Homo sapiens: one gene and its partner. The protein of the gene in region 1 interacts with the protein of each later gene in a biochemical or structural test. Each region holds a gene or a part of one and is shown on either strand. Other genes may lie near its edges. The genes, in order: DEDD2 and CFLAR.

What was found.
Region 2: the proteins of DEDD2 (region 1) and CFLAR form a complex in vitro, tested with the Homo sapiens proteins (2 studies listed by BioGRID).

Annotation. Positions count from the first base shown.
Region 1 is NC_000019.10:42,198,031-42,200,903, forward strand, and holds the end of DEDD2 (DNA-binding death effector domain-containing protein 2), read right to left. Parts: intron 1,800-2,873; coding exon 1,408-1,799; 3' UTR 568-1,407; downstream 1-567. UniProt on the Homo sapiens protein: May play a critical role in death receptor-induced apoptosis and may target CASP8 and CASP10 to the nucleus. May regulate degradation of intermediate filaments during apoptosis.
Region 2 is NC_000002.12:201,111,662-201,119,347, forward strand, and holds the start of CFLAR (CASP8 and FADD-like apoptosis regulator), read left to right. Parts: upstream 1-4,502; 5' UTR 4,503-4,820; exon of another isoform or gene 4,821-5,023; intron 5,024-7,054; exon of another isoform or gene 7,055-7,240; intron 7,241-7,366; exon of another isoform or gene 7,367-7,686. UniProt on the Homo sapiens protein: Apoptosis regulator protein which may function as a crucial link between cell survival and cell death pathways in mammalian cells. Acts as an inhibitor of TNFRSF6 mediated apoptosis.

The DNA of each region.
Region 1 (2,873 bases):
CGGGCGTGGTGGCGGGCACCTGTAGTCCCAGCTACTCGGGAGGCTGAGGCAGGAGAATGGCGTGAACCTGGGAGGCGGAGCTTGCAGTGAGCTGAGATCATGCCACTGCACTCCAGCCTGGGCAACAGAGCAAGACTCCGTCTCAAAAAAAAAAAAAAAAAAAAATTCCTGGGAGCCCCCAAGGACATACAGGAGCAAAGCATGTGTGAACATGGTTGGAAGGGTTTCTGACTCCGAGGCAGTATTCTATTTCTTCCTTTGACAGAGGACAAGACTGACACCCAGAGGGGAGGACAAGCGTGTGGTTATCAGCTGGCATATGGTCCAGCATCCTGCCCACACTCCAGTCCCTAACGCTGGGCCAGGAACACTCCTCCTCCCAGCCCACTGAGGTCCAAAAGCTGGGCATGGTGACGGGCACCTGTAGTCCCAGCTACTTGGGAGGCTGAGGCAGGAGGATCGCTTGAGCCCAGGAATTTGAGGCTGGCCTGGGCAACATATCAAGACCCTCAACTCTAAAAAAAAAATTTAAATTAAATAATAAATAAAGAGTCCTAGAGAGGCCGATGCCCACCTATGCCCTTTCCAGGGCAGTTTAATTGGTATCATTTGTAAAAGGTCTTTTCCATCACCCCCAAAGCCTTTGCATTCCCTTTCCAAGAAGGTGGCTGTTTACTGGTTTTGGCCCCATGTGCAACAGTAGGCCTTGGTATGATGCTGCCATAACACTCCCATGTGACACTCCAGGTGACATCCAAGTGCAAGTCTATGTTCAGCTCTGGACAGCAGGGGGGAAGGTGAGGAGAGTCAGGTCTGTAAATTGAAGCTGGGCAGGGCCCTGGCTGGCTGGAGATGTGTGGGCAAGGTGAGCAGGCCCCATGTGCACCCCAGCTCCAGTGCCCACTGATGTGGCTGAAGCCCAGGTTGGTTGTGGTCAAATTAGAGGTCCTGAGAGAGAAGCCCTTAGGCCAAAGAAGTGTGTGCTGGGAAGCAGGCCAGGGCAGAGGCCCAGGGAAGATCTCAGCAGGGGCAGTGTGAGCATGAGCGAGTGTGTGCACCTGTGACAGTGCAGACAGCCCAAGATCAGAGATACAATGTGCAGGGGGGCCTTTGGTGAGTGTGTAGCTGTGCCCCTCCCTTCTGAGATACAGGCCCAGCCCCCGCCTCCGGAGGCTAAGGGGGCACACCTGGGGGTAGGAGGAGTCTGGGAAGGAAACTCAGCTGGAAATGGTTTAGGCCTCAGAGCCCACATCCTGTGGGAGGGGCTGTCAAGGGGCCTGCTGTCCCGGTCCTGTCGCAGTCCTCAAAGATGCTAGAGTGACAGTCCTCTAGGGGTAGAGATGGTCGTCCTCCCAGGAGAAGGTGGCCCGGAGACTTGGAGGTGGGATCAATCCTGCCAGTCCTGGATCAGGAGGCCTCTGTCGGGCGCCGCCCCCCTTCCTCCTCCATCAGCAACAGGCGGCGCCGGCCAGCCTCATAGTCAGCCTCATCCACACTGACCAGCAGGCGAACAGCCTCCCGGCCCACAGCCTCTCGCAGGGCCTCAGTCAGGAACACGCCCCGCAGGGCCTGCAGCAGGGCGCCACTCAGGTAGTCGCCCCAGAAGGCGTCCAGATAGGAGAGCTCTGAGAACTTGATGTCACAAACCACAGAGCCCAGGTCCCTTGAGCGCAGCACTGCGGTGGCCTGCCCAAACACGTCCAGCTGCCGCGCCAGCGCCTGGGGCCGCCGGGATGCCACGCCCTGCTCCAAGGCTGGCCCATGCTCGCAGTACTCTGCTCGAACCCGGAGCCGGATGTCTGCAGGGGAAGGAGGGATTTGTCAGGGAGGGGGCCAACACTAGACACACTTATGGGGAACGCCACCCTTCCTCCCTCCAGCCTTCTCCCTCCACCCCCTTCCGGTAGCCACACCCTAGTCCTGACACAGCCTCCCCGGCTCTGTGGGGTTCCCTGACCAAGTACGTCCTCCTCTTCTCCAGCCCACCACCTCCTCACTGCTCCAACAAGCCTCCCCACCGCCAGGGGTGCTCTTTCCCTGGATCTGCACAACACTTGCTCCCTCTCTTCCTGCAGGTCTTTGCTCAAAAGCCACCTTGCCAACAAGGCCCACCTAGGCCAACCTATTTACAGCTGTAACCACCCACCCAGCCCTCTCTGCAGCATGCCAGGTCCCACACCCTGCTCCATTTTTGTCCAAGGCACTTATCACCTTCCAACCTCCTCTGTCAGTTACTATCTGCTCATTATCTGTCTCTACACTCAGCATGGAGAGACAGATGACAGCAAGGAAGGGGTTTTTGTCTGTTTTGTTCACTTGTGTAACTGTGGCACATAGTAGGTGTTCAATATGTATTTGTGAAGAACTAATGCATGAACTAATGGACTTGCCTTAAGGCAACCAGCCTCACACCCTGCCCCCAAACAATGAGATTCACATGGTGCCAACCACATCCCCATCCCTCCCATCCACCTGAGCCAGCACTGCGGATGCGCAGGGTCCTGACCAGGCCCGGGAGGCTTGCGGCTGGACCTGTGCTGGCTCTACTGGGAGTCAGGTACTCTCTTGCCACAGAGCTGCTAAGATGATGGGTTGGAAGCCCAGAGCTGCTGGGAGCCACTGTGCCAAGAGGAGAGAAGGAAGCCTACGCAGGGCCAGCCCCAGAGATAAAAAGATTCCTGAGGTCATCACATGAGCCCACGATCGTAGCTGGATTTTCAGCTACACTCAACTCCCCTTTTTGCTGAAGCCAGTTTGAGTCGGTTTCTGTCACAACTCTCCCCACATCTGCGCAAAAGAGGTGGCAGCTGTGTACAGGGGACAGGACACTGGACTTCTAAGGCTATCCTGTAATCATGAACTTCACATACCAC
Region 2 (7,686 bases), on another chromosome or scaffold:
GAATCACTTGAACCCAGGAGGCGGAGATTGCAGTGAGCCGAGATCGTGCCACTGCACTCCAGCCTGGGTGACAGAGTGAGACTCTGTCTCAAAAAAAAAAAAAAAAAAAAAAATTAGCTGGGCATGCTGGCGCGCACCTGCAGTCCCAGCTACTCGGGAGGCTGAGGCAGGAGAATCGCTTGAACCCGGGAGGCGGAGGTTGCAGTGAGCTGAGATCATGCCACTGCACTCCAGCCTGGCGACAGAGCGAGACTCCATCTCAAAAAAAAAAAGAATGTATTCTTTTTAAACTAAATTTATTTATATATATTTTTTGAGACGGGGTTTCACTCTGTCATCCAAGCTGGAGTACAGTGCTGTGCTCATGGTTTACTGCAACCTCAACCTGCCTGGCTCAAGTGATCCTCCCACTTCAGCCTCTTGAGTAGCTGGGACCACATGTATGCATCACTACACCTGGCTAATTTTTTAATTTTTTGTAGAGACAGGCTCTCCCTGTATTGCCCAGGCTGATCTTGAACACCTGGGTTCAAGTGTTCCTTCTGCCTTGGCTTCCCAAAGTGCTGGGTTTATAGGCATGAGCTACCATACCCAGCCAAGAATATATTCTCCCAGAATGTCAGAGGAGTTGAGGCAGGATGTGTGGCTAAGAGAGTAGATATAAAGTCATTGCTGTGGCTATTAATTCTCCATTCCCAAGTCACCCACTGTGATATAAGGAAAAGCATTAGATAAATTCTTGGCATCCTGTCCTAGTCCTGTCACTAGCTAGTTGTGAGATGTCTCAATTTATTAACTCACTTTAAGCCTCAGATTCTTCATCTGAAAATTGGGTTGTGGTTGACGGAGTGAGAAAATGTTTGGATTAGATCAGTTGTTCTGAATCTTAACTGTACATTGAAATCACACGGGGAGCTTTAAAAACTACCAATCCCTGGGTCTCACTCTCAGAGATTTTGATACAATTAGTCTGGAATGGTACCTGGCCACTGAGGTTTTTGCAGCTCCTTGGGGACAGTCTAATGTGCAGCCAAGGTTTACAACCAGTGAATTTGATGAAAACGTGAACATTTGTTGCTACTTTGTTAAGTGTGGAAACAGAAAGTCAGAGAGGCTTAAGCAATACTGCCCTTGGACCCAGGCACTGGGGGTCCTGTTGTGGGCCCTGATTTAGAAGGGCCTTGCTCCGGCTCTTCTTGGGCTGTGCCCTTCCCTCAGGTGAGGAGAATCATCAGAGGTGGGAGGAGTCTGCAAGGTCAAGAGGACATGCCCACACCGAGACCCTCTGTTTAAAACCCTCTTTGGGGCTGGGTGTGGTGGCTCTCGCCTGTAATTCCAGCACTTTGGGAGGCCAAGGTGGGCAGATCACTTGAGGCCAGGAGTTCAAGACCAGCCTGGCCAACGTAGTGAAACCCTGTCTCCACTAAAAATACAAAAATCAGCCGGATATGGTGGTGCGCGCATATAATCCCAGCTATTTGAGAGGCCGAGGCAAGGGAATTGCTTGGGCCTGGGAGGCAGAGGTTGCAGTGAGCCAGGATTGTGCCACTACACTCCAGCCTGGGTGACAGAGTGAGACTACGTCTCAAAAAAACAAAAAGAATAAACCCTCTTTGGGTACCTAAGACCTGAAGTTCTCTACGCAAAGAGCCCTGAGCCTCCCACCAGGGCCTACATTGGCCTCTTCCCCAAGTCCATACCCCAGGGACAAACTATGCTGCAAGTATGCACATCCCTAAGCCCAAGGGGTGGCTGATTTTAAGAGGATGTAAATGGAAAGTGGACTGCAGGTGGGAGTGTCAACATAGGTGTATACAGTCATTCTTTGAGGGCTGCTGAAGCCAAAGGATAAGGATGGCACAGGGGTAGGGGGTTAAATGCCTGCCCCTACTGGTTTGCCAAATGGGATGACAACATGGGCTTCCAATGTGAGCCAGAAAAAGCCCTCAGGGAACGACATATGGATATGCTGGGTTAGAAGTCATACTGGTGTGTGTTGAAGTGGTAAGAATCAGTGGGCATGCAAGGTGGGCCTGGGGTAAGTCCACTATGATGGTTCTACTGACAACCAGAAATGGCTTTCACTTGGGATAGGGTGGGTTGGAGGTGGTGATGGAGGTGCTAAGCTAGGTGTTCTTGAATAGTAGTTTCCAAATTAAGGACAGGTGCTGATCTGTAATAAAATTTTCTTGGTGTACTAAAAAGATAAGAAAGGCCAAGAGCAGCAGTGGTCATGCCTGTAATCCCAGTGCTTTGGAAGACCTAGGCAGGAAGATCACTTGAGGCAAGTTCAAAACCAGCCTGGGCAACATAGCAAGACTCCCTGCCACCCACGACCCCCGCTTCTACTAGATATATATATATATATATATATATATATATATATTTTTTTTTTTTTTTTTTTTTTTTTTTTTTTTGAGATGGAGTCTTACTCTGTCTCCCAGGCTAGAGTGCACTGGCATAATCTAGGCTCACTGCAACCTCCGCCTCCCGGGTTCAAGCAATTCTCTGCCTTAGCCTCCTGAGTAGCTGGGATTACAGGCGCCCGCCATCACACCCAGTTAATTTTTTGTATTTTTAGTAGAGATGGGGTTTCACTATCTGGGCCAGGCTGGTCTTGAACTCCTGACCTCGTGATCCACCCGCCTCAGCCTCCCAAAGTGCTGGGATTACAGGCATAAGCCATTGCGCCGGGCCACAAATTTTTTTTTAAAGAATTAGCTGGGCATGGTGGCACCTGTAGTGGCACACCTAGCATGGTGGCATGCTAGGACCTGTAGTCCTAGCTACTCAGGAGGCTGAGGCAGAAGGATCACTTGAACCTGGGAGGTTAAGGCTGCAGTGAGCTGTGATCGGGTCACTGCACTCCAGCCTGGAGTGAGACCCTGTCTCAAAAACAAACAAAAAACCAAACTTGGATAACTGACAGAGTTTAGGATAGAATTACATGGAAAAACCAACAAAACAAGACAATTATTAACTCCAGAAAAAACTAAAAGTTGTGTGGGAAAGGAAAAGTAATCATAGTTTGGTACATAACTTGGCTGTGACTACCGTTTACATGATTATAATAGCATATATACTGAAGATTAATCAAACAGAATATAACTATCTTGGGAAGATGGAGAGATTAAAAAAAAAGGTTGGGGGTGAATATGGGGTGAAAGTGATGGAGAAAAAGAGCTGAAGTCTCCTCTGGTGTCTCAGCACTCCACCCAAGGTAGAGCCTCTGGATGGAAGAAGGAATCTCCCACCTCTCCACCACACTCCCCCAGGATTTACCTTCAGCATCAGGTAGCTAGGGGCAAGATGAGAAATGCTGATATGCTGGTCTCTGACTGGGAGCTGTGGGAAGAGAGAGGTTCTGAGTTGCAGCAGTCTGGAGTGGAGTCTCTTGCTGAACAAAGGGAGAGGTTTGGTTTAAATACCACAGACTGACTCTCACATTCTGATCCAAGAGTTTTCATAGATTTTTTGGAACAGATGTTTCTTCATTTGCTGTTTGCCCTTAGGACCATTTCAAAGGCTTTAAATGGTTAATGGTTGTTTGTTGTTTTAAATAATTTTCAGTTTCACTAGGGGTGAATCCCGAGCTCTTCATGCCGTCCTGCTGTTAGTCTCTCTTGGTATTATTCTTCACCTTTCCTGTGAGTTTAAAATTATCTCAAGAAAAGTTAAAGCTCTTTAAGAATCACAATAAAGTAGTTATTAGGAATAAATAAAAACGTAGAGGGGCGCGGTGGCTCACGCCTGTGATCCCAGCACTTTGGGAGGCCGAGGCGGGCAAGGATCACTTGAGGCCAGCAGTTGGAGACCAGCCTTGCCAACATGGTGAAACCCCATCTCTACTAAAAATACAAAAAAAAAAAAAAATTAGTCGGGCATGGTGGCTTGCACCTGTGGTCCCCGCTACTTGGGAGGCTGAGGGCTGGATGGTTTGAGAGCGGGAAATCCAGGCTGCAGTGAGCTGTGATGGCGCCACTGCCTTCTAGCCTGGGCGACAGCGCGAGACCCTGTCTCAAGAAGGAAAACAAAAAAAAACAAACAAAAACATACACACAAAAAACCACAAAGTGTGTTCACGTTTGCTATGACTCCCAGACAACAATTGTAAACACTCGCGCCGGGCGTGGTGGCTCACGCCTGTAATCCCAGCACTTTGGGAGGCCGAGGCGGGCGGATCACGAGGTCAAGAGTTCGAGACCATTCTGGCCAACAGTGAAACCCCGTCTCTACTAAACACAAAAATTAGGCGGGCGTGCTGGCGCGTGCCTGTAGTCCCAGCTACTCGGGAGGCTGAGGCAAGAGAATCGCTTGAACTAGGAAGGCGGAGGTTGCAGTGAGCTGAAATTGCGCCACTGCACTCCAGCCTGGGCCACAGAGCGAGACTCTGTCTCAAAAAAGAAGGAAAGAAAGAAAGAAAAAAAAAAACACTCGCAGTGTTTACTCCTAACGCGTGGAACTTGTGTCGACATCCACCCCCGGTTACTGCATACTCAGTCACACAAGCCATAGCAGGAAACAGCGAGCTTGCAGCCTCACCGACGAGTCTCAACTAAAAGGGACTCCCGGAGCTAGGGGTGGGGACTCGGCCTCACACAGTGAGTGCCGGCTATTGGACTTTTGTCCAGTGACAGCTGAGACAACAAGGACCACGGGAGGAGGTGTAGGAGAGAAGCGCCGCGAACAGCGATCGCCCAGCACCAAGTCCGCTTCCAGGCTTTCGGTTTCTTTGCCTCCATCTTGGGTGCGCCTTCCCGGCGTCTAGGGGAGCGAAGGCTGAGGTGGCAGCGGCAGGAGAGTCCGGCCGCGACAGGACGGTACGTGCCCCGCGCTCGACCCCCGCGCTGGCGGCGCCGGAGCTGTCCCAGACCCCAAGCCCCGACGCCCGGCCCTGAGTCAGCATTGCAGCAGGCCCTGCGCCGCCGCGCCCCGCGTCCCACCCCGCGCCGCTCCTCACAGCCCTGCGCTCCGGGAAACTGCAGGTGGCCGGCAGTGGCCAGGGGATGGCGGGGGCGCTTCTGGAACCTGACTCAGTTTTGTAGGTTCCTTATCTCGGTTGTTTACCGCGGGCTTTGCGGAATGCCCCCGCTTCCGTTTCCGCCCGGCTCCGAACCCCCGAACCCCTTCTACCCGCAACTCCGCCCCGGATTCCCAGAAAGGGGCGACCTGGGCCACAGCGGTACAAGCTGCACCCCGATGGACCTGAGAGACCGGAAGTAACCCTTGGCCAACTCTGGCCGCCCCCTGCAGCCGCAGCCCCAGAGGCCCACCCGCGAGCTTCAGTGGCGGGCCCTCAGCGTCGTGTAAACTTTGCTTAAAATGATCTTGAGAGTTCAATTCTTGGGGTGAACTGTTGAGAAGATCTGGCATTTTTCCTTTCGAAAGTTGTTGGGAACGTGGACTTTCCCAACAATTGTGTATGCGCTCGATCTCACTCAGTGGGAGCCGCCGCCCTGGAGGGAATTTCACAATAGCCTGGTCAGGGCGGTTATTTTCCAGAGCAGTTTAATGTCTATTTTGCCCAAGTGCAAGGAAAGCTTGCCTTGGGAAAGCTGGGAATGCTTGGCTAATGAAAAGTTTTTAGAGCCTTTTAAAATGAACCTGTTTCTGCCACTTTTCCACCGCCTCAAAACGACTGGGAAATGTAAACTGGCTTCAAGATGTTCTTGCTTGAGGGTGTCTGGATTTGGACAGAAGGCCATGTTCTTTTAATATTAACAGTGGCACGCAGTAGAACAAAGGCCACTGAAATTCAGAATCAGTTTTTGGCTCCACGGGCAGGAAGTAAATTCAAGGACGCCAGAGGTCTTGCGAATATTTTAATTGGTTGACATTTGAAATTTGTTCTTAAGCAATGAGGGGTGAAACCAGTAGGGGGATAGCGTATAGCATAAGTAAAGCTTTTTGGACATCAACAAACTGCGATAATCTACAACAGACAGCGGGCTCTGGAAGGTTTGACCTGCTTTAGAGAGAGATTTCCGATAAGAGGAACGGAGTTTTTGGCACTTTTCGGTTTGGTGATTCCCCTAAATAACCTTACAAAAGTTTCGTTGAACAAAAAACCTGGCTGGAGCTCCAAGATCTTTTTTTTTTTTTTTTTTTTTTGAGACAGCATTTCACTCTTGTTGCCCAGGCTGGAATGCAATGGCACTATCTCTGCTCACCGCAACCTCCGCCTGTCGGGTTCAAGCGATTCTCGTGCCTCAGCCTCTCAAGTAGCTGAGATTACAGGCATGCACCACCATGCCCGGCTAGTTTTGTATTTTTAATAGAGACGGGGTTTCTCCATGTTGGTCAGTCTGGTCTCGAACTCCTGACCTTAGGTGATCCGCCCGCCTCGGCATCCCAAAGTGCTGGGATTACAGGCGTGAGCCACCATGCCCGGCCCAACTCCAAGATCTAAACAAAAAAGACTGGGTTGAAAGGGAGTTTTTAATGTTTACTGTTTGCTTTACATCCATTTTCTTGTTTTGTTAATACTTGCTTTACTTAAGCTTTTGGGTCAAATGTCCTCGTTAAAATGGCTTTCTCTAGCGACTTTATGTTTTACGTTTCTGTTTGTAACTGACATTTGACCTTCTTTTAACACGGTATTACTTGCTTCCTTATACCGGTTTCCAAGGTGAAGCCATTTGCAGGGTCGCTGGGTTTCCCCCTCCCCCCGAAAGTCTTGCGCGACCCGGGGTGGGCCGGATAGTGTGCAGTTTTTTGAGCCTTGGGCTGGGGACCTCCAGGAAGCTGAAGCGGAAATTGCCTAGGCCCCTGGGGCATTGGAGGTCCTACCGCAGCTCCTAGTAGGTGGTGGGGGCGCAGCGGCTGTCCCCACTCAGTCCTGGTGGGGTCGCACGTAACGGTCCTGAGCTATGCATAAGCCGTTTGACCACGCATGGAGAATTTTACCACCCAGAGACACGCGAGTGGCCCTGTGCAAGTTTCAACTGCGCGGGGGGCGGGGAATTCCGCAGACAGGATTCTAGAATTTATGTCTTGTGTGGTAACATTTCAGCCGGTGGGTGGCGGGGATTAGGCGTGAAGCGGTTCAGCAGGCAGAGGTTCTCGGACGCCCTCCGGCGAAGCCACCTGTTGATGCTTTTGACTTTCTGTCCTTGTTCCTCGTCCCATCTGGAGCATTTCCAATTCTGGTTTTGCGGAGCAGCAGGTCTGAGCTTGTCCGGCGAGGGTGGGAGTTGGTCCCGGCGGAGATCCAGTGGGAAGAGCCGGCGGCTGCCCGGGCGTGAGTAGACCGAGAATCCTGCCCGATCCCCGCCCCTGGGCTGGTGTCGCCCTGGGCTCCTGGGACGTCGGGGCACTGTCCCCCGATACTGGCAGAAAAGGATTGAGTCCTCGCTTTTGGCCCTAGGTCTCCTTGAGCCTCCAGAGGACTCACAACACTCCGGGGCATGTTGCTCTTTCAAATACCAGGAATGGACTCTGGGGAATGGGGCACCCTTGAAGTCTGATTATTTCTTCCCTGTAGAGCCCCAGGGGCTAATTAAACTCGTGTTTATGGACTCCAATGCCTCCTTGCCTTTAATTCAGTATAATCCTACCAACATTTATTGAGCTTCTCTGGGCCAGGCAGAGTTCTGGGTGCCGAGGACATAGAAATGGATCTAAACTTGGTTCTTGTCCCCATAACCTCACAATGTGGTTGAGGAAGACTCAGCAGTTACCTACACA